2 separate regions of the Homo sapiens genome follow, and region 1 is linked to region 2. A link means that fine-mapping ties the variant in region 2 to the plasma level of a protein whose gene starts in the linked region. Region 2 holds a variant in brackets. A gene starts in the other region. All regions are shown on their reverse strands.

Region 1 (10,771 bases), not on the chromosome of region 2:
GCGCTTGGGCACAAAGCACATGACCTCCACAGCTTGCTGGGACACAGGTGAGGGAGGCGCATTGTTGGGCGAAGAGAGTCATTATTGGGAAAGAGGCCTCCTCGGCCAGTTGCCTCTTCAGACGGTATCTCAACCCCAACCAGCCTCCCCCTAAAAACCAGACAGCTGTAAACCACCCAAGGGGCTGGGGGAACCCATGAGATACTAGGAGGATAAGGAGCACATGGTGTGTCCTGGAAGATCTGGGGTCCTCACCTCTAGGTCTGCAGTATCCATCCCAGCTCTATTGTAATACTTGAGAAAATCCTAAGACAGAGAGAAGAAATGCTCAGGGAGGTCACGAGGACACCCTTAGAAGCTCTCACATCCTCCCCTGAGGACACCAGTGAGGGCCCTCAGGAAGTCTGGGGGAGCCCTAAGAACCCTGGGGAGATGAATGAGGAAACAGCTGTGCCAGCCAGCTGTGCCCCCAGGAAAAAGGGGGTCCTGACCTTGAGCAGCAGCTGGTATTTCATGATCCGCTGCACAGGTTTGATGAGGAGGTCGTTCAGCTGCAGGCGGTGCCCCAGCTGCTGCCGGAGCTCCTGGGGACAGGGACAGGGTGGTTATGCAGCCTGGAAAGCCCCAGTTCTGTCCTCCTTCCCACCAAGACATCTCAGCTACTGACCTCAAAGTAGCTGTCCCCAAACTCTGACACCACATGCTCTGACTTGGGCTTATTCTGACAGTACACCACATACATATGCAGCCGGCGCTCCTAACAGGGGTAATGTTTAAGAGAGAGCAGGGTGGGCAAGGAGGGAGGACGCATCTCCAGAGAATCCCAGCCCATTCCTAAGCCCCGCCCCAGGCCCTGCCCCCTCAAGCCTCACGTGTTTGATGAATAGCTGAGCCAGCCAATCAGGATCTTTCAGACACCGTTGTAGCTCTTGCAAGAAATAGCTGGAGGGGTTGGTAGAGAAGCAGCAGGTCAAATACATTTCACAACCCCCACCTCGCCCACTCCCAGCAGTTTCGAGCTGTCTGCCCTGGTAGTGTGCCCTACAAAACTTCTCCAAACATTCCTTAAGTCGCAATGGGCTGATGTTAGGATACAGGACAACCAGATGAGGGCCCCTCTCCAGCACCTAGCTGTCAGAGTTCCACCACTCACTCTCGGTGCCACTCATAGATTTGCTGGATATTCCCAAACACAATCCTGTCACGGCCTCGAAGACTCTCGGGGACCCCCTGAGCAGCCATGGTGGCCATATAACCCTGTGGGAAAGTTGAGGTTGGGTCATGAGCATGTGGTGGCCCTCTCCCCACCTTAATGGTGCTCCTGTACACAAATCCAGGGTGTGTTCCACCTCCCCCTCCCTGGTGGGAGCCGCCCTGCCCCCAGAGTAGGAAGGTCCAGGAGTGGGGAGGCTTGAGAGGTGGGACAGAGGAGCGCCCAGGCACCTCCTGAAAATAGCCCTGGGCAGATGGAAAAGCAGGCAGGAGGGGCTGGGAAGGGGTAAAGGGAGCTACCTCCACAATCTGCCCCAAGTCGTCCACGTACATTTTCTCTGTTTCTACCAGTTCACTCAGGACATACCTAGGATGAAAGCAGGAGGAGGCCCCCACTTCAGCGTCGGAGCTCATCCTTGGTTCAGCCCGTTCCTCCCTCCTCCCCTTTATCATCATAGCCAACCTTGGAGGAAATTCCATCTAAAATGTGAGGGACAGTCTTCTGGAAGTTGTGCAACTGCAGGGAAGGGCTGTGGACACTTACATACTCCTTTCCAGAGCCTTCTTCTTCTGTTCCTCCTCACTCTCAGGGGCTTGGGACAAAGTCTCCTCTTCAGGTGGCTGGAAGGAAAGAACATCCTAGGGTGAGCAAACGAATGCCCCTTGAGTGAAAGGAGCCTCCCCAGAGCCTGTCCTCACACCTGCGTCTTATCTCCAGGGCCCTCCAACAGTGTGGTCAGCAAGGTCAGTTCCGGCAGCTCCTCTCCTGTGGCTAGAGCTGGCTCCAACATCCAGTTCTGGGGGCCAGAAATCAAGTGTCAGAGGTCGGGGACAGTAGCTGGGTGGCCCCAACTTGCCCTCTCTGCCAGTGTCCTTCATAGATGTCCCACATGCTTTGGTGCCGTTCCCTGCTCACCTCATATGGTCCTGCCTGACCACTGTCTGCCTCAGTTTCCACACTGAGACAATGTTTGGAATGATCCAACCATCTCCTCAGGCCACTGACGGGCCCTGGGGGGCCTGGGGAACAGGGGCCAGAGCTGAGGCCAGAGCTGGGGCCAGAGGGGGCAGCCAGACCGGAGGCAGCAGAAGCCGATATACTCCCCTCACTGCCCGCAATGGAATAGGATTCTAATGGGAGGAAAAAGAGAGGAGGTGATAGACCTTGCCCCAGCTCCAGACTCAGGGTCCCCAGGGAACTCCCAGGGTCTTCTCTTCATGATGCTCAGCCTCTCTCTCCAAGGGCTCACTCTCTTGCCATCCTCATTTGAGTTGGCCAGGATAGAAAATTTCACCAGGGCACCCCTGGGAGAAAGCACAGTAAGGTAAACGCCTGGCTCTCCAGGCCTGGAACCCCCAGTTACATGTGGAGGTTCCCCATATCCTGAGCATAGCATAGATATGGGGGTGGGGGCAGCCATCTGGGCAGACATTGGAAGCTGGGGGTGGCCATCTGCTCTCCTACAACCCTCCCTCTTTCAATGGGTACAGACCATTCTCTGGGAAGAGGGGAGGATGAGCTGGGTCCATCTGCCACTCCCAGTCCCCTCCTCCACCAATTGCAGTAATCACTATAAAAAGAAAAGACTTCTGCAGCCCACCTCCCCAACACATGCGTAGACCCAATAGAGGAGGCCAGTGAGGAGGGTCCATCAGGGTTATCGTTGGCCTGTGCTCAGCGACAGAGAGCTGTGATTCCTTATAAAGCCCCTTGTAGAACCACCTCATTCTCATTCCTCCATTCTCCTGTCCCTCTTCAGAAGTAGATTCTTAGCAAAAGGTTTGAGGAAAATAATCGGTTCTAGGCCTAAGGGGATTGTGGGTGGGTTTTTCTCAAACCCATTTGACAAAGGGAAAGAGATGAGTTCCCTGCCCCTTCCCCTATTTCCTTAACTTGAACTAACAGAAATTTGGAGGCAGAAGGGACCTTAGGGATCACTTAAGAAACCACTTTCCTGGAAAACACATACAGTCTCCAACCCTAAATCCCAAGGGCCAGGGCAAACAGATGCCCTGAACCCCCAGCCCGCCCCCCACTCAACACTGGACCCTCTCGACCTGGCACTCACCACGTCCCCCCCGGGCGAAGCAGCAGCCGCATTTTGCCAGCACTTTTCGGATCACACGGGGACAGGCACAGCGACCCCCTTTGTGCCCCCCCCGCATGGCGCCCGGGCCCCCCCGCGCCCCCCACCCGGGCCGGCCATGCAGGGGGAATCACGGGGGGCGGGGCGGGGACGGCGCCGGGCGCACACCCCCCCTCCCTCCTACCCCGGTCCAGGCTGTGGGAGGGGGGGAGGGAGGGGACCGGGAGGAGGTGTCCAGGGGTAGGCGGAAGTCTAGTCTTGAGGAGGGCTGGGGGCTCTAGAGAGAGAGAGGCGCGGGGCCCGGCCGCCGGGCTGGGCGGGGAGGGTTTCCGGAACCCTGTCGGTGCGGGGGCCTAGGGTCCAGATGTCCAGTGGAAGGGGGAGGGATGGTAGGGGAGGCTGGGCCGGGATGCGGCAGCCGCTCCAGCTGTCTCCGGCCTCTGGTTAGGGGTGGCTCTAGGCCCGGGCCGGGGAGGAGGCGAGGGCCGACCCCCGAGCCACTGGCGCTGTGCGGGTCCCAGCGGAGCGGAGAGCTGAATAACAGGCCTGGCCGCGGGGCCGCCACGAGGCGGGGCCTCTGCGGCCCAGCTCCGCCCTCTCCATCGCGTTCCCCCTCCTGCCTGCGCCGGGTTCCCGCCCCGATCGCCCCTCCCCCAGACACCACCACGTTCCCACTCCACGTCCCCAGCGCTTTTTCCCCTCCCCAGCCCGTGCTCCCCTGCCCCGGGGTCCCCCTCCCTCTCGCATCCCGGGCTCTGCGGAGCGCTGGGGTCGGGGTTCAGCCTGTCTGCAGGGTCTGCCCAGGTCTCCCCTTGGCCTCTGCGATGAAGGAGGACTCAGTGGATGGGGCCTTGGCCTGTGCGAAGATGTTCTGGGTTTGGGGCTGTCCCCGGCCGAGTGGACAGAGGCCCCCTGGTACGGGGTGCGTGTATGGGGAGTCTTTTGTGGGTGAACACAACCCAGATGCCGCCCTCTCTCAGGACCCTTCTTTCCTCCAGGCCCCGGGACTCCAGCTAAGACTAATCGCCAATTAAGGCGAAGTCCTGGAGCCCGGGCTGGCGAGGGGCCAGGGGTGGGGCGCGGGGACACTCTGCCTGCGAGGGCTCGGGATCGACTGGGATGGGGGACACACATTGGACTCGAAGGCAAGAAGAGTGGAGGTCTCTGCGATTAAATGGGTCTCATGCAAATTAGATGCGAACTTTATGCTAATAAGAATAGAATATTTTTGAATTCGCCACTTGGCGCAGGATAGCAAACTGTGCCCCACCCCACCCCCAGCTTCTTACCGGGCTGCAGAGCCCCGGCGAGGACCTCATGTTCGCGATCCCTTCTGTGATCTCCCTCCGTACGTTCAGACTCTGGCTCGGTACCCACCAACCCTAGAGGGCTTCTCCTTGGGGGCTGCGGGGACAGAACCACTGTAAGGAACCTGCCCTCCTAGGCAGCCCTGACCTCCCCCTTCCCCTTCTCCTACCTGTCAAAACCCACATTGTTATAAAAGGCTCGCCCAGAACGGGGCTATGGCCCTCGTAATAGAATTCATGTATTCCTGCGACTGCCCCGCAGAACTCGTTTTCGGATAAGTTGAGTTGTGGGTGCAGCCCTCCTGAAGGCCCCGAAAGACCCCCGACCCCACCGCGAGCCCCCATTCTTACCCCCTCCTGCCCAGGGAGGGCGCATGCGCGCAGCATGCCCCCCATGACCCCCAGTATCCGGTCAGTGCGGCCAGGGGCGGGGCGGTCCGGGGGCTTCATACTGAACCCCCACCCTGCTCCAAGTTTCAGGGTCGAGGGGGCACTGAAGCTGGGGGGCTTTGAGGCCTGCGCGCGTCCGGGGAGTTGCTGCTGCGGAATCCGCCCCCTGCCCGGCTCCGCCCCCACTCCCACCCCAGCCAAACTTCGCAGAGTGGCTAGGGTTGTTTTCTCTACAACCATAGTTGAACAACAAAAAAACACCCTCTTAATACTAATTCCAACATCGAAGTGACCCAGGGTTTCTCAGTGTTACTACAGAGCCCGCTGGTGCATCCCGTTTCCCCAGGTCCTCAGGAGGCAGAGGGACTGGGAGTGCACGCAGGGATCACCCCATCATCCCCTCTCCCCTTTCCAGCAGGTCCCTCTCCCCACCCCACCCCCACCCAGTCCCTGGAAAAGAACGGGTGTGGCATAAAGAGTTGCATATTTTACTTTATTTTTATTAAATTAAAAGCTACAGTCTGGCAGCGATTCCAGAACAGGGTAAGGAGGTTCCTCACAGGGGTCAGAGAAGAGCGGAGAAAGACAGACTGACGGAGACTGAGACACAGGAGAGAAAGGACAAGGTTAAGGGAGAACTGTATCTGATGAACACACACAGCCGGCTCCATGGCGGGTGACGGGGAGCTCACATCAGCCCAATTTCTCCTCCCCGGCACCCGAAGTTCAGCGGTGGAGCAGTATGTGGGGGCGGTTAGGAATCAAGAGACCCTCCCTTCCCCACCCTAGGTCCTTTCTCGGCTTGGTCGTGGAGCACAGCACATACCAGAAAAAGCCAAGGGCAATGGAGGGGCAGGGAAACCGGGAGTATATGTACACGGGGAGGGGAGAACAGAGCCTTGGAGGTCGGCCTCTGCCAGAAGGGAGTGGCTCACACTGCATTGAAACACTTGGCCAGTGGGGGATGGGGGAAGGGATTGCCCCCTCCCTCTCGGAACTCCCTTCCCAGTCAGACAGGTCCCCTACAGGTGTGGTGTGGGGGGCAGGGGGCAGAGAGGAGAAAGAGGCTTCTGCTGGGTCCTAGTAGAGGCAGACAGCAGGGGCCTTGGCAAAGGCGATGTCCTTCAGTCATCTGTGATACCCTTCGCTCTCAGCTCCTCTTGCACCCGGGTCAGGTAGGTGGGGTCTGGGTACCCAAACCTGGGAGCAAAGAGAAATGAGGGTGAGGGTTGTTAGCTGTTTGAACTTGCTATTATCCCCATGCTCACCCTCATTCTAGGTGGCTCAGACACCTCCCCACCTCCCCTAAGGGAGGACACCTCCAAATCCAAGATAATTTAGCCCAGTTCTGCTTATTTTTGTAGGCTAAGCTGGGCACACCAGGACCAGGTTGAATGTAGGAGAAACTGAGATGGCTGAACAGTTTGGAAGTGGTTCTCTCCAGTTAGGAGGCTCCGTGAGCGAGGGGTTGGTGGGTCCCTCAGTGGAAATGGAACAAAGGGGAGGAGCCAAGGGAAAGGAAATGAAGAGGGGTCGCACAGCTGGGGTCCCCCTGTGCAGCTGGTCTTGTGGTGGATGTCGTTCCAGGTGATGACATTCGGTCTCCCTGTGGTCATGGACGTGCCGATAGTGAAGGTGAGACGCTGGTCAAACGCCTTGCGGAACAGGGTCAGCACCTTGTTGCCCTCAGGGCAGTCCGGGAGGTAGGCCACCCGTGTGGTGCCAGGATACCGAACTCCTGGGTTTGGGTGTTCAGCCTGGGAGGAAGGTGAAGCAGAGTGGGCAGTGAGCAGCCAGGCATCCTAAGGCCCAGATGCCAGAGGAGGGTCATCCAGGCTAGTCTCTGTCTGAGCACCCCCAGCTAATGCGAACGGGGCAGCAACAGGCTGACAGCTTTCCACAGAAGGAGAGATTATACGGCCTCGGCAGCAAGAGCCTGTTTCAGAGCATAATCCTTATGTGTTAAGAGATTTTTTCTGCTGTCTCAATCCCTCAAGTCTCCATTCAGCAACAAATGGATTCTCAGAAGTGATGGAAGTTAGCTGGTCCCTACACTCCAGACAACTCAGCAAAAATGTGAAGACAGAATAATCTATCTTTCAGCCTTCCCTTCACCTGAAAATACTCCTAATGTTTCTGCCACTGTCTAACTTGTTCCATTTTCCATCACTCTTCTGTGCAGCTTCTTCACCCCTCTGCAGCCAGAATTGCACATTACTCTTTGTCCAGCAGGAAGACACCTATAGGCCTTGACTACTCCTGTTTTTACAGAGTGATGCTCCTGGCTCTGTTGGGTTGGTCAGATCCCTTCCTATTGTGCCTCCCTTCCCCTAAGCCACCACCTCCACAGAATTTACCTCTGCCAAGATGTCAGCACAGTATTTGTGTTCATCAAGGAAATAATATGCAATTCCTTCCTCTCATATCTGATTTGCTTTTTTTTTTCCTAGCTCATATCTGATTTTCACGTGTGCCTTGGGATCACAGGGATGGAAAGGCTGGGCCTCACGGGGACCTCCTAGGTCCAGGGCACTGAGTAGGAGGGCACAGTGGAAGACAGCAAGACTGTCTCACATCTAACAAGCACACTCACCCTCACCCGGTTTTCCTAGGTCAGAGCTTGGGGAAAGCCAAAGGGTAAGGGCAGGCCATGGTCTTCTTACCCCCTGGACACCGGGCGGGAAGACGTACTGGATGACAATGGTGCCGTACTTCTCATAGCTGGGCAGTAGGAGGGTGGCGTCCTTAGAGACCAGCATCCGCCCATTCTGGGGCTGGTTGCCCACCAGCTGCCCATAGAAGCGGCCGCACATGGGGCAGGCCTTTTTCACCTGCAGAGCCCGGGTGATGCAGCCCTCGCAGAATGAATGCCGGCACTTCTCCAATGTCTTGGCATTCTGGATCTCCCCCAGACAGATGGGGCAGGTGCTCTCCTGCTCTTCTGCCTCCTCCCGAAGGCGAGGAGGAAGAGGTGGGGGCAGGGGGGGAGGAGGAGGGGGGAGCCCCCGAGCTCCTGGGGGCAGAAGTGGGGCTGCTCGGAGAGGGGGTGGGCCTGCGCGGTGCATCTCAGGGTGCTCCCCTCCACCCCCCAGAGCCAGGCAGCCCATCAGCTCCCCCTGCCTCTGAGCTTTCTTCAGCTCTTTCTCTGCCTCTTTTAGCAGCCCCTTGAGAGCCTTCCGGGCTAGGTAGAGCCCATTTGGAGGGGCCGGGGGAGGACCCTGTGGGGAAAGCTGGAGAACATAGATGTCAGAAGTCTCGCCATCTATGAGGATGGACACACGGTGCTCCTCCCGAAGCCGGGCCAGCCGGGCTGGGGTCTCTTTGCTCAGGAAGTCCCACACGGGCTTGGACACAGTCACTTTGTTCTTGCAGGTGCCTCCACAGGCTGCCATTCTGGACAGGACGAACGACACTGCCCCCAGGGTGAAAGGGACTCAGGGTGGGGGGTCCCCATTTGACAAGTATCAGTGCCTCCTACTTCAGGTTCCTTCCAAACCCTCTATTACCTCTGTTTTCTCAAAGCCTAATCCCCAACCCTTCACCCAAATTCATATTCTGTCTCCCCTTATCTTCCAAACCCAAAACCCACTGAAGAGCAAAAAAGTTTCCAGAGCTATATTATCATCTAAGCCAAGTATCAGTCTTGTTTCTCCTGTCATTTCTCCCAGATCATAGAAACAACTTGCCCCTCCCACCTCTTGGGGAAAAATGGGCTGTTTAAAGGGGAGGGAGACTCTTTGCCCCTCCTTTTTGCTTACTTTGATCCTGAAGAGCTTAGAATTGGCATGCAGGCTCACTCTTCTTTCCCTGCTCCCTACTTGTAGGTCGTGTGACCTGGTAGGGCGGAAAAATGGAAGGAAAGTGAGAAACCCCTTCTCCCAATTCCCATGGCCCCCAACCCAGCAGCCCATGGAACAGAGACAGAAACCTGGGTATAGGTTACTAAGAATGGCATTACTTGGAACATGGAATGAAGGAAACCAGTTTAAGGGTGAAAATTGAGGATCCCTTGCGGGGGAGATACCTGGAAAGCCCATGGAAGATGATGGCAGCAGAAATCCTTCTATTTCCACTCAGCTGACCAGGACTGGGAGTGGGGGAAGGGTAAAAAGTTATGATGGCAAATGTTACCATTCCCCTCAGCCAACCCAGAAATAAAAACTCCCCTTCCATCTCCTCTCTTCTCTGCAGAATTCCATTATCAGCTTCTCCCCAAGTTGCTCAAGAAGGAACTTCAACATGCTAACCTTCCTCCTTTCTTCCCCAGCTCTGAGGCCCCCAAGAAAGCCTAGGGCACACATAAGAGAAGTCAGGAAAGAAAACGCCCACACAGGTGGAGGTCTTCTTGCCACCTCCCTCAGATCACATGGACCGGAATATTTCCTATGCTCCCCAACTCCTCGCCTGCTCCACATTGCCAAATAATTCAGCCCCTATTGCCAGGGAGCCTTCCTTGAGAGCTAACTCAGTCCCTTCTGCTGAAGTCTGTTAAGGATGTGAACAAAGTGGCAGCAGCCCCTGCAATAACAAAGTTCTCATTGTCACCTTTTAAACCCAGCACAGGCAGTGCTGTCTGTCAGCTCCCAAGTCTGGCATTTAGGGAGGGGCGGGGCTCACACAAGGGCTCAGCTGGAGGGGCCTGATGTTTTCCCTGAGTCTGGTCGCATTGGGCTACGGGGCTGTCTCCACAACACTTCCAAATGCAGCTCAAACAGAAAGAAGGGCCATTAGTGTGACCTCCATTTATTGACTGATCCAAGAAGGAGCAGCTGTCCCTTCATGCCTCCATCATCGTCCCCCAAGGCCAGATGCACCTCGAGATTCATAAGTGAAAATGGAACCCTAGAGTCTCAGCCCATACAGTCTATCCGCGATGCAACACTTCTCTCCCCATCACGGGGGACCCAGGACCTAGGTGTCCTAGGTCCAAGTCCTGCTGGCACAGAAAAGGGAGGCGGGGCCCCAGTTTAGGGTGGGTCTGTGATTCCTCTGTGGCAACCCAGGCCGGACAAGGAACCAGTCTCTCCCTCCAGACAGAGGCCAGAGGGAGGCACAGCCCGGATGGGCAAGGGTCCCTGGGGGCATCCACTGAAGCAGCTCCCGCCCTCCCCCCACGGCCTCCTCCAAGACCCGACCCGGAACCAACTCCCCACATCCCTCAGTAGCCAAAGCCCCCGGATCCCCACCGCCGGGTGGGGGTGCATGTCGGCCCGATCGCAGCCCTCAGAACCCCCGAATGGAGGCCAAGGCTGGAGGGTGCTAGAAAGATGATCGGCCGGGCACGGAGCGGGGAGCCCGGAGCCGCGCGCGGGGAGGGGAGGTGGAGGAGGGGGCGCCGGGGGAGCGGGGGGCGCGTGAGGGGTGCGAGCGGGGCCCGGGGGGCGCGCGGTGGGTGTGGGGGGCGCCGGGCTCACCTACCTCTCGTCAGCGCCGCCATTGCCGGTCACATGACTGAGGCTGTTGCTGGGATGACGGTCCGGGCCTTAGCAACAAGGAGGGGGAGACCCCGAAAGGTGGGGGATTGCAGGGGGTGCAGGCTGAGGAAAAGGGAAGGAGGGAGGACAGCACCCCCTTTCCCCTCACAGGTGATAATCACCGTTCCTTTGACCCCCTTCTATCCGCAAGCCCCTGCCCTTCCTCCCCAAAACAAAAATGGAGGCGCTGTCCCAGTCTTTGGAGGGAGGGGGTGGCGTCATGGAACTGAGGGTAGGAGGTTAAATCCCTGGAGACGCCACCCTACTCGCTCCCCGCTCCCGGCGGAGCACTCTCCCTTTT
Region 2 (16,281 bases):
CCCTGGCATGCTTATACTGGTCCAAGCAAGCATTAGGTCATAGCCTGTTCCTCTTCCTTATCTAAAGGTGTTTTTACCTTTCTCAGCATTCCACAAGTTACTTCCTCCTTCCTTTGTTCTCCTCTGCCTTTGCCTCTTTTAAAAAGTTCTAAGTTGTTAGCCAATCGGGACAAATACAGAATGGGAGGTCCTGTTCCAGCCAATGGAAACTGGACACAGCAGTAGGGTGGACGCGTCAGGTTATAAATGACCCTGTCTCCTTTGTTTGGTGTACTCTCGTGGCAAAACTCCTGGTGAGTGTACCCTTTCACAGAAAGTATAAAAATGTCCTTGCTGAGTAAATTAAATTTATGTTCAAGTGCTATTTCTTTACGGCACCAGGGAACAAGCATTTCAAACAGAGGTGACTCAATGGTGTTTCAGCGTCCAGGTGGCACGGTGTTCTCTCACTCCACCTCGACGGCCCATGTCCACAAGAGGGTTCCTCCCAACAAGAAGCCTGTTCTACAACCTCAGCAGTTGTAGACTTAGTCCCATCTTTCCCAGCTGAGGGTCCAGAACCTTGGCTGTCCCCATCAAGGTCAGAATCTACCTTACGTAAAATAATTTATGAAAACTCTTTCAGATCATCCTGCAGTGATTTCTTCCTGGTCAGGTGCCCTGGTTGAAGTCCATGACGTCTCTTCCTGGCAAAGCCTGTTTAGAGCTGTTATATCCTGGTCCGGATAAAATAAGCCAGCTAGCTCGAGAAGGGTGAGACGAAGAGTTTAACTCAGATGCTACAAATAACTTTTGGCTTAAACTGTTTTTAGCTCCAGGAAAGCCCCTGAGGGTGCCTTCCAGTGACGGAGGCCTCTCCTGGAATGTTGCCATATGGATGGGACTAGAAAAAGAAAGACCTATGGTTTTAATATTATGTATCTGCAAATAGTATTTTCCTTGTGCTCATTTTATTTTTGGAGGAGGGCTCTGCTCTCCAGTCACACAAAAATTTTGGCAGAGGGGAGGGTGGGATGGCTACTCAGACCTTGGTGTACCTCAGAGGACTGTCTGAACAGTGCACTTGGCACAAGCAAAACTCCTGCCTTCCTCTCCGGGGGGAATGTTCAGTTGTTACAAGCTCTTAGCCTTCCTGCTCAGGTACAAAATCTGCTTATGGGCCAGGCATGGTGACTCACACCTGTAATCCCATCACTTTGGGAGGCCGAGGTGGGCAGATCACATGAGGTCAGGAGTTCAAGACTAGCCTGGCCAACATGGTGAAACTCCATCTTTACTAAAAATACAAAAATTAGCCAGGCATGTTGGCACGCGCCTGTAGTCCCAGCTACTGGAGAGGCTGAGGCATGAGAATCACTTGAACCTGGGAGGTGGAGGTTGCAGTGAGCCCAGATTGCACCACTGCATTCCAGCCTGGGGCACAGAGTGAGACTCTGTCTAAAAAAAAAAAAAAAAAAAATCTGTTTATGCTTGGTTACCTGTTGATAACCTTTTGATCCTTAATTATTCCATTTATCTGAGAGCAGAAACTATTGTCTTGGGAACTTGAGTGCCTGGATCGTGGTGAGCTGGAGCTGAGTGCCCGATACATTCCAGCTGCCTCTTCATGTCCAGTCTACACCCTCCATCCTGCTGCCTGGGAGCTGATCTCTATGGGTATCTCACCGGGGGCCCAGGGCCTATGGCTGCTGGGGGCCAGAAGAAGGGAGGAGTGCAGTTAGGGTGTTTCTTCCCTGGCTCCTTCTCTGAGAGCGTGGCTCGGCTCCATGTGGCTGTGTCCCGTGACTGCGGGGCAGGTTGCACCTGCACATGAACCACTTTCACTGCTAGAATCTGACAATTGTCCCCAACTCACAGCTCCAGACCCTCTTCTGGGAAGGACTCAGCCACGCTTCCTCCTCGGATCACAGAAGACTCCAGATGCAAGCTGTCTGTTTGCAACAGTGTGCAGGGCTTCTCTGACTGGGAGGCTGCTCCTGTCAGCTGTTCACCTTCTTCACTGACTCCAGAGTGTGCACGTGAGCCTGCCTGGAGGCGCTTGGACAATCATTTACCCCATTTAAAAAAAACTGGCCTGCGTTCTTGACTGCAAAAACTCATTATCATAAAAATGCCATGTCCTCTTAAGTTAGCCTATAAACTTAATGTAATGCTAATAAAAATAGCAATAGGGCTAGGTACGGTGGCTCATGCCTGTAATTCTAGCTCTTGGGAGGCCAGGGCTGGAGGATTTCTTGAGCCCTCAGGATTTCAAGACCACCCTGAAATCTCACTATACTGTGAGACCCTGTCTCTATAAAAATTATTTTTAAAAAATTAGCCAGGTGTGGTGTCATGCTTCTATCGTCCCAGCAACTTGGGAGGCTGAGGCAGGAGAATCACTTTGAACCTGGGAGGTCAAGGCTGCAGTGAGCTATGATTGTACCACTGTACTCCAGCCTGGGTGACAGAACAAGACCCCGTCTCACAAAAAAGAAAAAAAAAGGTAATAAGATTAAAAATTGTTTTTGAACTTAGCTGATTCTGATAAGTTTATTTAAAAATTAAATATGAAGCATAGCTAGAAAAAAATCTAAGAGAAGGAAGTCTACCTCTATTAGATGTTTAAACACATAAAAAGCTACAGCAATTAAAACAGTATAGAACTTGTGCATGAGGATATAGATAAATAAATGGCACAGAAAAAATCTAGAATCAGACCTTCCCTGTGCTCCCCTGGGGGCACAGTGAGATTCTTTTATGGCTGTTGGGTGTCAACACTAAGTATAGGGCCCATCTGTAGCCCCTAAGGTGCTTTTGAAAGCATGCATGCCTTTTTTTTTCCCCTCTCCCGGTTTTGACACATTCCCTTCTTTCTGGGTTGTTTTTCTTTTAGAACTGACTGTTTTTCTTTACAGTACATGGTGTTATTGTATTCTCTCCCCCCCACCCCCCGCCCCGTCTCTTTTGGTCAGGCCTTAAATTCTCTGTGGAATGAGGTAAGGCATATGTAAATACTAAGCAATTCTGCCTAAGTCACTGTAAAGCTCCCACTCCCATCTCTCATCTGCCTTTCTCATCCCAGGAGCCTGACACCTGCCTCAGTCTGTCCAGCACCCTGGACATGAGCAAGGACAAGTGTCAGAGCTGGGTCCCCAGGGGACTCTGCTCATCCATGGGACAGACGGTGTCTCTGCAGAGAAGGAAGGTGGCTACCGATGACATCTCCCGCTAGCAGGGCCCTGGCTGTTGCTGGCCATGTTTATTACTAACGGCAGCAGATGAGGCCCTGCCTGGAGGTTCCTAAGCTGCCCCGTGAAGGTCCTGACCACGGGCTTGACAGACCGGCCATCCCTATATCCAGGCTGCCTCCATACCCAGCCATGCTTCTGTCCTGGAAGACACTCAACTGGCACAGACCTGAGAGGCTGGGGATGGAAAATGGAGGGGTTTTCTGCCTTGCTTCCTCTCCAGAAAAAGCCCACCTGGGTGCCCCACGAGCCTTATGCTTAGTCAAGCAGGGGCTGCCTACAGGATGGGATTTTAGGGGCCTCCTGTCCCTTCCTCCACAAATCTCCCCTACATCTGGTCTTAATTTCTTTATTCTTATTTTTATTTTTTTTTGAGACAGGTTCTCACTCTGTCACCCAGGCTAGAGTGCAGTGGTGCAATCACAGCTCACTGCAGCCTTGACCTCCCGGGCTCAAGTGATCCTCCCACCTCACCTTGTAGCTGGGATTACAAGCACATACCACCATGCCCAGCTAATTAAAAAACTTTTTTTGTAGAGGTGTCTTGCTATGTTGCCCAGGCTAGTCTCAAACTCCTGGTCTCAAGTGATCCTCCTGACTCAGCCTCCCGAAGTATTGGGATTACAGGCGTGAGCCACCGTGACCAGCCTAGACTTAATTTCTACAAGTGGCTCTCACTCTACATTTAGAGATCAGATGGGCTGCAAATACCCAGGGGGAAGGGAACCCTTGGATTTAAATGCTCTCGTGTGAAAAGGACTGAAAGCAGGCTTACTGGGGAAGATGGGAGAGGTAGGGTTCTGGGAGTCTGGACCCAGCACTGTTGAAAGGAAATCACCCAGGGCAGATGGTCCAGGGTTTCAAGGCCAAACTTGCCCCTGTATCTTTTGGTTAGGTTGGAACTGAGATTTTCCACCTTCCCAAATGGGGACCTCCAGGATCCCTGTGAAAGGCAAGTGTCACTGGAGGCTGGTGGTTGCCTGCTCCCTCAAAGCACTGACCTTACCGCTTGATTCTGTCACCTTCCCACACATCTTTTTGTCTCTGGGCACCAGGAGGCACCTGCCCGATGCCATCCTCCTGGGGTTCCTTGGCTTCTAGGCGCTTGACTGCCCTCTCACTCCCCTTTGGCTGGCTTTGCTCCTCCAGCCCAGCCCCTGAGGATCTCTCTTCCTGCCTCCCTTCCTGCCCAGGGCTGTGTGCTGCCCTTTCTACGTTGTCCAGGACCCCTCCAGCAAACAATCCCAGAGGCGGGGTCCCTGCTGGCCTAGTGGACAGAACCGGGGCACTCTGGGCAGGGGTGCTGGTCACTTGGGTGGTGAAAGGTCCCGAGTAGGCTGGGTGCGGTGGCTCACCCTGTAATCTCAGCACTTTGGGAGACCAAGGTGGGCAGATCACGAGATCAGGAGTTCAAGACCAGCCTGGCCAACATAGTGAAACCCCGTCACTACTAAAGATACAAAAATTAGCTGAGCATGGTGGCATGCGCCTGTAGTCCCAGCTACTAGGGAGGCTGAGGCAGGAGAATCACTTGAATCCAGGAGGTGGGGGTTGTAGTGAGCTGAGATTACGTCACTTCACTCCAGCCTGGGCAACAGATCGAGACTCCGTCTCAAAAAAAAAAAGAAAAGAAACGTCCCAAGTAGGTGGCAGGCTGGCAGGGGCGGGGGTACCTTTGCTGGCTGTCCCCCTCGCTGCTGGGCACAGGCCAAATGGCTCCACGGAGCACCCCACAGCCACGTTGAGCCTTCAGGTGGTTCTCAAACCAGAAAGGAGTATGGTGGAAAGACATCCCAGATAGATCTAAGAGGCTGGACCAGAGGTGGTTGGGGAGGGGCACTAGATTTGTGGTTAGAAGACCACAAATTTTTTTTTTTTTTTTTTTAGATAGAGTCTCACTCTGTTGCCCAGGCTGGAGTGCAATGGCTCCATCTTAGCTCACTGCAACCTCTGCTTCCTGGGTTCAAGCAATTCTCCTGCCTCAGCCTCCTGAGTAGCTGGGATTACAGGCGCCCACCACCATGCCCAGCTAATTTTTGTATTTTTAGTAGAGATGGGGTTTCACCATGTTGGCCAAGCTGGTCTTGAACTCCTGACCTCAGGTGATCCACCCGCCTTGGCCACCCAAAGAGCTGGGATTACATGCATGAGCCACTGCGCCCAGCCAGAGGACCTGGATTTTGGTCCTGATCTGGCCACTTAAGATTGTGTGAGCTTGGATACACTTCTTAATTTCTCTAAGCTGGTGTGTTCTCAGCTGTGAAAGGAGGATCATGATGAGGTGTATCCTCGGCAGGTTGTTAGGATCACGTGAGAGAAGGGAAACCGGGGTTCCATGGATGGGCTTTAGAGACCTGGAACCCCAAATGTTTTGTGCAAATTTGGCACACATGCAAACACATGCTGTTTTCTAGGGAGAGCAGTCTGGTTTCTCTCCCACTCCCACCCCGAATGGTTGGGAAACACTAGAGCCAGACCATGGAGTTCAAATCCTGACTGTGACCTGGGGAAACTACTCCCTCTGTGCCTCAGTTTCCTCATATATAACATAGGTTTAATAATAATAGACTGTCTCATGGCACTGAGAATTAAATGAAAAAAATATGCAAAGCATTGAGAACAGTGTCTCCAAGTGTTTGCTCTTTTCATTTGCTAATTTTATAGGCGTGGAAACTGAAACTCAAGGGAAGTGGAGTTTCGATTGGTACATGGTGTGCCAGACCTTGGCCACATTTGGCAGTCTTGTCCTCGAAAGGGTGCCAGGGTTGCCAAGGGTGCCGGCTGGTGAGGGGCAAGGAGAGAGGGTTGTGGCCGGGGGTCAGTGAGGAGGGAGGGGAGCTGCGGGGGAGAGTGAAGCAGTGCATAAGGTGTCTGTCTCACCGTCTTGAGCCTTCCGAAACTCTTCTTTGGAAGCAAGGGGTGTCCGAATAAGGAAGAAATAAAGGTAAATAGTGAGCACTGGGCGAGGTGTCCTGGTGTGTGCCTGTGGTCCCAGCTACCTGGGAGGCTGAGGTGGGAGGATGGGTTGAGCCCAGGAGGTGGAGTTTGCAGTGAGCTGTGACAGCAACACTGCACTCCAGCATAGGTGACAAGGCAAGACCCAACTCTTTTTAAAAAAAGAAAGTACATTTTTTAAAAGAGGGGGAGCACTGAGAAGGGTGTAGATACAAAAGCATTTGCTGGTGACACGAGGGTGGCCACTACAAAGAAGAGTGGCCACCCAGGCCTGACCGGGTCTCCAGCCGGGACTGTGGAGCCTCCCCTGCACTTCCCTGTAGCGCTGGATCCCGGGGCTGAGAACAGCAGCTCCTGGGAGAGGCTGGCCTTGAGGTCCCTTCCCTGCTTTTCTCCTCACATAACAGAAGGAAAGACGGCCCCTTAACAGCCTCCCTCCTCCTGAGTCTGCAGTTGGGACCGAGTCTGCAGTTGGGACCCAGTCTGCAGTTGGGACCGTTTCTCTCCCTGCACCCCTGGGCTGTCAGTTCTCTCAGGGAACGTTTACCACGTTTGTGCCTATGGCAGATGAGCATTCCTGTATTCATTTGCTCATTTGTTCAAAGACTTTTTAGTGTCATTCTCTCTGGCCCATTCTGGGACACCCACTGGGCTCAGTTAAGCCACTTTTGCCTATGGGTCTCTGGGAAATCCTCTCTGAATTCAAGCTTCCTCCACACCTTCTAATTTGTTTGGGAAAGGAGGTTTGATTTGTGTTTTTGAATCGTTAAGCACAGCAGCCTTCCCCTTCCAAGACTCACGTGACCTGGATAAGGGCTTCACTGCCCCCAGCAGGGCTGCCTTTCTTGGGGACCCACGGAGAGCACACCAGGTAGCCAGCCCTTCCTTCCACTCCAACCCACCCAGACCCTCCTCTGAGGACAAGGCACTCCCAGACAGACCTTATGAATGACTCCTTTAAACTCCAGGGCCTTCTACTGAAAAGATAAATTCATTCAGGGCCATGTCAGTAAATTTCCAGAGCTGTGCTCCCCAGCCTGGGTGTCTGCATCCTGAAGGTTGGCTGTGTGACAGGCCCAGCCCATCCTGGGGGGTGGGATGCAGCTGGATTACTAATATTTGCAGCTCCTGGAGGTTTTCCAAGAGGAAAGCATAATATTTGCTCTGCATTTTCTCCTTCTTTCCCTTCCGCTACTGCTGTCTTTCCTTCACAAACAGAAGTGAGGCAGAGTTGGGGAGCCAGGGGAGGGGGAGTGCAGGAGAGGCTGGGCTGAGGCACACCTGAGCTACCTGTGGCTCTGTCACACTATAGTGCAGAGGCTGCTGACAGTCCTGCAGGACAGGAGGTGTGTGGGCAGGTTGGTGCTGGCTGTCACAGTTACACCCAGTGCCTGCACTGGGAAGAATTGCGCTTGGTGAAGTAAAACACGCTGGATACCAGAGCAACCCCCAGGAAATAACTGGGTTTTCTTATTGTTTTCTTTAGTCCCTTTATTTGTAGGCACAGCTGCTTAAAGAAACAAGCTGGCCCCTGATGGTGCCAGAGCTTCTTGACCTCTGCCCAGATACCAGAGGGAGATAAGACCCCCAAAACTGGCAGAAACTGGAACAGGCAACCCCTTGTTACCTTCAGAACTTTACCATGTCATTATAATGCTAACGTCCCCACCTGTAGAAGAAAATCACCATTATTTCTGAACATGTGTCAGAGGC[G/C]TGTGAACTAGAGCAACTCCATCTTGAATAAGAGCTGAGTAAAATGAGGCTGAGACCTACTGGGCTGCATTCCCAGACAGTTAAGGCATTCTAAGTCACAGGATGAGATAGGAAGTCGGCACAAGATACAGGTCATAAAGACCTTGCTGATAAAACAGTTGCAGTAAAGAAGCCGGCCAAAACCTACCAAAACCAAGATGGTGACAAGAGTGACCTCTGCTCGTCCTCACTGCTACACTCCCACCAGAGCCATGACAGTTTACAGATGCCATGGCAACATCAGGAAGTTACCCTACGTGATCTAAAAAGAGGAGGCATGAATAATCCACCCCTTGTTTAGCATATAATCAAGAAGTTTAGCATATAATCAAGAAATAACCATAAAAATGGGCAATCATCAGCCCTCAGGGCTGCTCTATGAAGTAGATTTTCTTTTATTCCTTTATTTTCATAATAAATTTGCTTTCACTTTACTGTATGGACTCACCCTGAATTCTTTCTTGAGCGGGATCCAAGAACCCTTTCTTAGTTCTAGATCAGGACCCCTTTCTGGTAACACATCTTGCATTGTATGGAGAGGCATGTTTATGACCTGGGCCTGAGCGTCTAGAGGTCTCCACCCCCACACCGTGACCCCACACCTGCTTACACACCTCCCTGCCCCACACCTATCTCCTTACAACTCCCCAGTTTCCATGGCTCGGGGTGAAGGTGTCTTTAGAGCAAGAGCCCCCTCCTTCTCTTTCTCCTGGTCAGGAATAAAACCCTCTTGCCTTTTTTTCCAACTGAGTGTTCTTTCTTTGCAACTGATACCAAGTAGGGAAAGAACTCAGCTTACCGGTGACACACTCACACACACGTTTCACACACTGGCCAAGGGAGCTCATCTTGGAGGAAGAGCAGGCAGAACACAGAGCTGCTACGGGGCAGCCCAGACTCCCAGATGCCTTCCGCTGCCTCCACATCCCTCACTCCATGCTTCTCGCCTGGGGCCCAGCTTGCCGTGCCTCTGCACACCTCTGTCCTCGCGTAAGTCAACTCTGGAGGACATGTCTCTTTCCCCTCCAATCTAGTCTCAGGCTCCTTGTTGGTGCATTCCTGGCTCCGTGCCAGGCCTGTACTCAGTCTAGAGGAGACTGGCGCTGGTTCTGAGGCAGTGAGCTCACAGCCGGCAGGAGACAGACGTGGAAACTGGTTGTGGATGATGGTGGTGAGCATGAGGCTTTGAGTCTGAACAGGGCAGACTGGGACTGTAGGAGGGCTGGGGTGGGCGAGGAAGGCTTAGAGCGGGGAGCTGGGTGAGGAAGAGCAGGGGCACTTTCAGGGAGAGGGAAGGTCAAGTGCAGAGTCCAGAACAGGCAGGCAGCAGGACGGGCATTGTGGGGCTGGGCATTGGGAACTGGAGAGGGCTGGGGCTAGGCGGATTGGGTTGGATGTCCGGGCCAGCTTAGGAATCTGAACTGGCTCCTAAGGGAATTTAAGCCAAACTTCCTTCTCTTCCTTTCCCCTTCTGCACCAGACCCTCCAAGCATAATAAAATATTTGCCTTTTTCAGAATGAATCACTCCCTGCTTCCTCTTTGTGGGAAACCTTCCTTCCAACTCTCCCTCCTTAATCATCCTTTGGGGTATCTCTCTTAACCCCTTACTGTTCCCCTCCCAGATCCTCACACTGACTCCCAGCTGACTCCCAACATGATCTGAACTTGGAATTAATCCATCCATTTAATAATTTGCCTCCACTACTTCCATAGCTCCCTGAGGACAGGTTTTCTGGCAGCAATGCCCAAAGTGGATTAGATACAAGTATACATGCTCCTTAACTTACAACGGGGTTACATCTGAACAAATCCATCAGAAGTTGAAAATATTGCAAGTCGAAAATGCATTTAATACACCTCAGCCTACTGTAAACTAAAAATCAAAGTCTAAGCCCCTTAACTAACTGAATGGGTGCCCCCTTAGTCAAGGGGATTCCAAGGTAAACCTGAAAAACAAGTTCAGGCCACGATGGGAAGGGAGGTCCGTCATGCCTCATTTTATCCTCCTCCTTTAGGAATTCAGGCACAGCTGACCAGCCTTAACTGAAAACAGAGATCTTAAGACTCACAAAACAGACTCTTCCTAGCAATAAGATACCAAATTCCAACCACACTCTAGTAGAGCATCACATGACAGATAGCAGGCCCTGAAAGAAATCAAAGTATTTTAGCCCAAAATATATTTTTCTGACAGATTTTGAAATGTCTCTGAAAGCTGTCTCTTGTGGGAAAATCTACATTCTATAGCAGGGGTGTCCAATCTTTTGGCTTCCCTGGGCCACACTGGAAGAAGAAGAATTGTCTTGGGCCACACATAAAATACACTGACACTAATGATAGATGATGAGCTAAAAAAAAAAAAAATCTCATAATATTTTGAGAAAGTTCACAAATTTGTGTTGGGCCACATTCAAAGCCATCCTGGGCAGCACGAGGGTTGGACAAGCTTGATGTAGAGAATCACCTTCCCTTCAGGTCTTTTTCTGATCCTGAAGAGATTAGCTGAGCATCTAGTAGCACCTTTTAAAGGTCTGAATAGAAAACATTTGCCATCTATTGCCTTTGAGAGTGGCCCTCTGTGAGACTTCATCTACATAATAAAAACCTTGGTCTCTAACAACTTCTTATCTCAACCCAGGCACACTTTTCAACTGATTTCAGGTTTTCGTTTTTTTTTTTTTTTTTTTTTTTTTGGTTTTTTGGGAGCGAGTCTTGCTCTTGTCTCCTAGGCTGGAGTGCAGTGGTGCAATCCTGGCTCACTGCAACCTTCACTTTCTGGGTTCAAGCGATTCTCCTGCCTCAGCCTCTGAGTAGCTGGGACTACAGGCATACACCGCCATGCCCAGTTAATTTTTGCATTTTTAGTAGAGGCGAGGTTTCACCATGTTGGCCAGGCCAGGCTCGAACTCCTGACCTCAGGTGATCCACCCGCCTTGGCCTCCCAAAGTGCTGGAATTACAGGTGTGAGCCACCGCACCCGGCCTTGATTCCAGGTCTTTAGATAGTAACTTAATGCTTTCAATTAACTGCCAATCAGAAAAATCTCTGAATCCACCTGTGACTCGGAGCCCCCTCCAGCCCCTGTGCCTTCCCCATCCACTTCAAGTTGTCCCGCCTTTCTGGATTGATGTCTGCCTGTAACTTATGTCCTCCTAAAATGTATAAAACCAAGCTGTAAACCAACCACCTTGGGCACAGGTTCTCAGGACCTCCTTGGGCTTTGTCACAGGCTTTGGTCACTCATATTTGGCTCAGAATAAACTCTTTAAATATTTCACAGAATTTGACTATTTTGTTGACACTGCCTAACACCATAGCTTAGCCTAGCCTACCTTAATTGTGCTCAGAACACTTACAGTAGCCTACAGTTGGGCAAAATTATCTAAGGAGGCAAAGCCTGTTTTAAAATAAAATGCTGAACAACTCAATGTAATTTATTGAATACTGTACTGAAAGTGAAAAACAGAATGGTTGTATGGGTACTTCAAGTACAGTTTCTACTAAATGTGTATTGCTTTCATGCCATTGTAAAGCTGAAAAATTGCATGTCAAGCCATTACAATTCTGGGGCCACCTGTAGGCATCCTGAGCCAGACTCCAGGTGAGAACTGAGGCCCGCCTTGGAGTAATGGGGGAATAGAAGAAAATGGCGGCTTGGTGATGAGTTAAGGACCGAGAATGGAGGGACTGGTTGGACACAGAAAGGGAAGAACCTTGTATAGAGAAGGGATTGTGTTTTGCTTTTGTCTTTTTTGCTGAAGTCTCAGCCCACTGCTCTTCCTATAACAGATGCCCAGTAAAGCTGGCTGAATGGAAGCAGAAAGGCAGTTGCTGGCTTGTGCAAGTCAGGGCTCCTGAGCCCCATGGGCATCTCAGAACGCTTGGGGGTGAGTGGAGTCCTGAAGCTGGCACATCAGCCCAGCTTGTGAAGTCCTTCACTACTGTGTACCTTGGGAAGTCCCAGAAAACACATCCTCCCCACCCCGCAAACCATGAAGAGCTAATGTCCAAGCAGCTTGGGTTATTACTGGTAAAGGACAAGAAGGCCATTATTCAAAGGGGAGGAATCGTGGTGTCTTCCAAAAATGGTGGCAACAATGTTTCTGGTTTCACATGTTCTTCCAGAACCCTGCCACTCTCCATCTAGAAGTGGGCTCCATGTCCCTTCTCTTTGATCCTGGGTGAGCCTTCATTGATCTCAATGAATAGGATATGGCAGAAGTGATGCTATGTGACTTCCAAGCCTAGGTCGTAAAGATGAGACAGCTCCCAGGTCTTTCTCTTGGGACATGAGCTGCTGTAAGATGTTCAGCTACCTTCAAGTCCCTGTGATGGGGAGACCACAAAAGAGACAGAGATCCCTGGACCCCTGCTGATCCACCCTTCAGCCCGGGCACCAGACATGTGGTTGAGGGGGCCTACAGATGACTCTGTCCCCATCCCCATCTGATTGCAACCACTTGAGAGAGCGGGAGAGAGTTGCCCAGCTCAGCCCCGTCATCCTTCAGAACCATGAGAGAGAACAAAATGCCTTGTGTTTCAAGCCATTTGTTTTGGGGTGGATTGTTACACACTAGATACAGGTGTGACAAAACAGGGAGCTTGTGCTTGGGAGTCTGAACTGTAACGCATACCAGGGAGCCAGGGATAGTAAGATACACCTGCTAACAGAGTCTCCCACCTGGGGGTGCCAGCAAGAGAATGGAGCCAACACTGAGAAATGCCAGTGTCAGGCCACCCAGCTGCTCTGCAGTTCCCAAGGTACCCTGGACCTGAGATGTTCCCACTGTCTCCCTGCTGATGTGTGGTTTGGAAAGGCACCTGAGCTAGGAAGCTGAGCAGACGGAATGGCCTGCCAGTGGAACCATTCTCCAAGAAGCAGGGAGGGCCCTTCTCCTCCTTTGCTGTGTTCCTCCCAATGCTAGTGGGAAGCTTGAAGCTCCCCTCCCACAGGCTCAAATATCCCAGCAATGCTGCCCTGACCCCGTACATGCAATGTTTTCTCCTTTCCTACAGTATTTACTCATACTTGCGGCTGGATTAGATTGAAGCAATGCTGGAAAGAATATTTAGTTTGTCTTCAGCAACTCACCTACTGATTACCACTGCTATTCCTACCTCCCATCCGGCCACTCCCTTGCACCAGGCTCCCCAAATGGCATTCTGTGTGCCCAGTGACCCCCACAGTACCTCCCCCTTCACTCCTGCTCTGCCAGTGGTTCTCAACTGGGGGCATTCCATGCACCCCCCAACTCCGCCAAGCCCCCAGGGGACATTTGGCAAGGTCTGCAGACATTTTTGAGTGGCACACGGGGGTGTGTGGGTAGAGGCCAAGGATGCAGCTAAACATCCTATAATTCACAGGACAGCCCCCTACAATGAACAATTATCCAGTCAGTTGTGCCAAGGTTGAGAAACCCTGATGGATCTCAAATCGTACCTGTTTTGCGTTATATTTCTTTAGACCTTTTGTTCTTTTGTTTTGCATGCTGACAGCTAGATACACGATAAACAGACCAAGCTACTGAAGACTGCTCCTGGCTAAATTTCACCCTTCCTGAGACAACAGCATTTTAACAATCTCCAGCAGACCTGACACCCTGTCCCAGAGAGACACATCTCTCAAGGTCCTAGGCAGCCCAAGAAGGCGGAGAGCCACATTTTCAGGCAGCTGTGGGTCTTCGCTTTGGAAGGGAGGAGAAGGAACCTCTGAAAAGCCAATTCAGGGCCATCCCTCTGAAACTGGCAGGGAGGGGCTTCTCTAGAGGAAATGCACACCCCGCCAGCGTGCTAGGCCTGCGAGAGGGTAGCTGATGAGTCACCCTGGGCCATCCCTTTGTTACTCATTTCAGAGTCTGGCAGCAGCCCAGAAAAGGATACCCCCAAAGTGGAATTCCCCATGCATGTACAATCATCCTTCATTTGTATCAGGGGCTGGGAGGGGAGGGGGCAGATCCTCCATTTTACTCATGCCCCACCCTTATTAACAAGAAGTCTTCAGCCTCCTTCCCTAAACTGCACACACATCAGAACTGTGAGCCACAGCCAGTGATCCAAACCACGTGTCCCAGGCCTTTCCTTTCCCTTCTCCCTGCCCTATCTGCCAGAAGGGAGGCCCTAAAAGGGAGGATGGGAGGGAGGCGAGGGTGCTGGGGCTTGACATTCACTCTTCCTCTCTCTAGTCCCTTGCCTGTCTCAGCCGTGCCCTGGACCAGAAGGACATAACCTGTTGCATGTTTTGTCGTTTTTGTGTCCCTGTTCCCTGCAGCCCTGACCCTCCTGGGCCATCGCCCCCACGGTCACTAGTCAATATCAGAGTTTTTATCTCCAGTACCCCAGCAGAGGTGGCTGCTCCTTCCTGATGGCTGCCCTCCCCCCAGGCGCAGGCAAACCCACCCTCTTCCTCCCCATCCCTGCTCTCATCACAGACCCCACAGAAGAAGGGAGGAGGAGGTGGAACCTTGCCCTCGGCTGCCAATTCCTGTCTTAAATTCCTGCTCTTCAGGAACTCTCCTTTCTTAGCTCCTGGAGGAAGCCCAAAGACAGTATCTATTTTCCTGACTTCCTGAGGGGATTCACAAAGCTGAACTACTAGTCTTGCTTGGGCTGGGGTAGCAAAATACAGGAGAAACATCATCCTGAGAATGGGCCCAACAAGAATGAACGTGGGAAACTTTCTCACTCGGATCCTGGTCTCCCGAGAGACGGAGGAAACCCACGAGGCCCTGGGTTCCAGTGGCACCTTTCTGTCACATAGTCTTAAAGTTCCCTGCATTGTAGGAAAAGAAAAAGAAAGGACGCAAACATCGTCATTGTTCCCATTTCGCAGATGGGTGAGTGGAAACTTATGGCTAGAGATCACAAGGTACTGGAAGCACGTGTATGTGCTGGGATAGGAGAGAGTCCACGTTCCTTGGCACTGAAGGGCCTCTGGCCCTTTGTGGGAAACATCAGGAGGCCATGACCATTGTGTGACCAAAGAAAATTACAGCAGGAAACTCCTCTGAGTTTCCGGACCTTCCCCCTGGGACACCACCTCCTCTGTCATACCCCTCTCCAAAACTTAGGTGGCCGCCAATGTCAAGTGCTAAAGCTGGGACCCAGTCGGGTATTCAAGATGTGCCACAATGTGTCTCCACCTCAGCGACGCGACCTCATTTGACAGTACTCCCCTCCAGCTGTACTGTCCCCAAAGAGAACGTGCAATCTGCATGGATTAAACCTTTACTATGTACCAGCCTCTGGAGCTCTGAGCTTTATATGTCTATTATTTCATTTCATCTTTACAGTCCTCTGAGGTAGACACAATTTTTTTTTTTTTGAGATGAAGTCTCGCTCTATTGCCCAGGATGGAGTGCAGTGGTGCGATCATGGCTCACTGCAACCTCCACCTCTCAGGTTCAAGCGATTCTCCTGCCTCAGCCTCCTGAGTAGCTGGGACTACAAGTGCATGCCACCACGCCCGGCTAATTGTTTGTATTTCATATTGTAGTTTTGTAGAGATGGGTTTTCACCGTGTTAGCCAGGATGGTCTTGATAGTAGGCACTATTATTATCTTCATTTCACGGATGAGGAAACTGAGGTGTGAAGAGGATAGTGATCCACTCAAAATGACAGAGCCAGTATGTGGCAGAATAAGAGGCCAGTCCCTAACTGCCAGACACCAAGTCCTCATTCGCTACCCTGATATTTACAGATGTTTATTGATGTAGGTTTAGCTGTTTGTTTTGAGACAAGGTCTCACTCCATCACCCAGGCTAGAATGTCATGGTGCAATCACGACTCACTGCAGCCTTGACCTCCTGGGCTCAAAGTGATCCTCCCACCTCAGCCTCCCAAGTAGCTGGAACTACAGGTGCACACCACCATGCCCAGCTAATTAAAAAAATTTTTTTTTGTGGAAATGGGTTCTCATTATGTTGCTTGGCTGGTCTTGAACTCCTGGGCTGAAGGGACCCTCCCACCTCAGCCTCCCAAAGTGTTGGGATTACAGGCATGGGCCACCATGCCCTGCCTGTTTATTGACGTCTGTGCATTGTTTGGCTCTGATGTGAATACTATCCCGCTTTGGAGAGTAAAGGCTGAGAGGCTGGATTCCAGAGCGCAACAGTCTGCTGCTGTGCAGTGCAGCAGCCACAAGGAACATGTGGCTATTTACATTTAAATTAAATAAAATTACAAATTCAGTTTCTCAGTTGCATGAGTCATATTTCAAGTGCTCCACAGCCACACAGGGCTAGTGCTGCTGTTTGGAGCAGTGCAGATATACACGGTTTCCATCATCACTAGAAGCTCTATGGGACAGGGGTGGTCTAGAAGTGGCCTCACTGCACACCTGCTGG

Which allele goes with the higher level. Alleles are on the strand shown, and positions count from the first base shown. The strength of an association depends on the size of the effect and on how common the allele is.
With allele G in place of C in region 2, the plasma level of the protein whose gene starts at base 10,449 in region 1 is higher (moderate association).

Evidence for each region. PIP is the posterior inclusion probability: the model's chance that the variant is causal. The UK Biobank Pharma Proteomics Project read protein levels with antibody pairs (Olink). The fine-mapping took linkage between variants from a reference panel, not from the people measured, so its PIPs are less certain.
Region 1: it holds the start of DTX3, and the variant in region 2 is fine-mapped to the plasma level of the DTX3 protein (UK Biobank, PIP above 0.99).

What each region holds. Positions count from the first base shown.
Region 1 is chr12:57,604,502-57,615,272 of GRCh38, reverse strand. DTX3 (deltex E3 ubiquitin ligase 3) reads right to left here and starts at 10,449. Exons shown (of 7, transcript NM_178502.4): 1 at 10,415-10,449; 2 at 9,542-9,702; 3 at 9,021-9,083; 4 at 8,755-8,830; 5 at 7,660-8,408; 6 at 6,536-6,753; 7 at 5,471-6,196. The coding sequence starts at 8,755. The coding sequence ends at 6,121. It overlaps ARHGEF25 (Rho guanine nucleotide exchange factor 25), which reads right to left and starts at 3,838. Exons shown (of 15, transcript NM_182947.4): 1 at 3,282-3,838; 2 at 2,129-2,343; 3 at 1,914-2,009; 4 at 1,757-1,833; 5 at 1,513-1,579; 6 at 1,154-1,257; 7 at 873-942; 8 at 668-757; 9 at 492-584; 10 at 256-306; 11 at 1-36. The coding sequence starts at 3,378. RefSeq lists a silencer at 3,426-3,945 and enhancers at 10,055-10,567, 10,568-10,771.
Region 2 is chr1:223,724,361-223,740,641 of GRCh38, reverse strand. All of the region lies in intron 2 of CAPN2 (calpain 2), which reads right to left. LOC105373046 (a long non-coding RNA gene) reads left to right here. Exons shown (of 3, transcript XR_949169.3): 1 at 1-753; 2 at 1,527-1,656; 3 at 1,858-2,180. Among named protein-coding and RNA genes, the nearest start is that of CAPN2, 20 kb to the right of the region's middle. RefSeq lists enhancers at 1,798-2,313, 5,883-6,743, 8,518-9,113, 12,491-13,151. The variant G/C (reference allele first, on the strand shown) is at 7,899.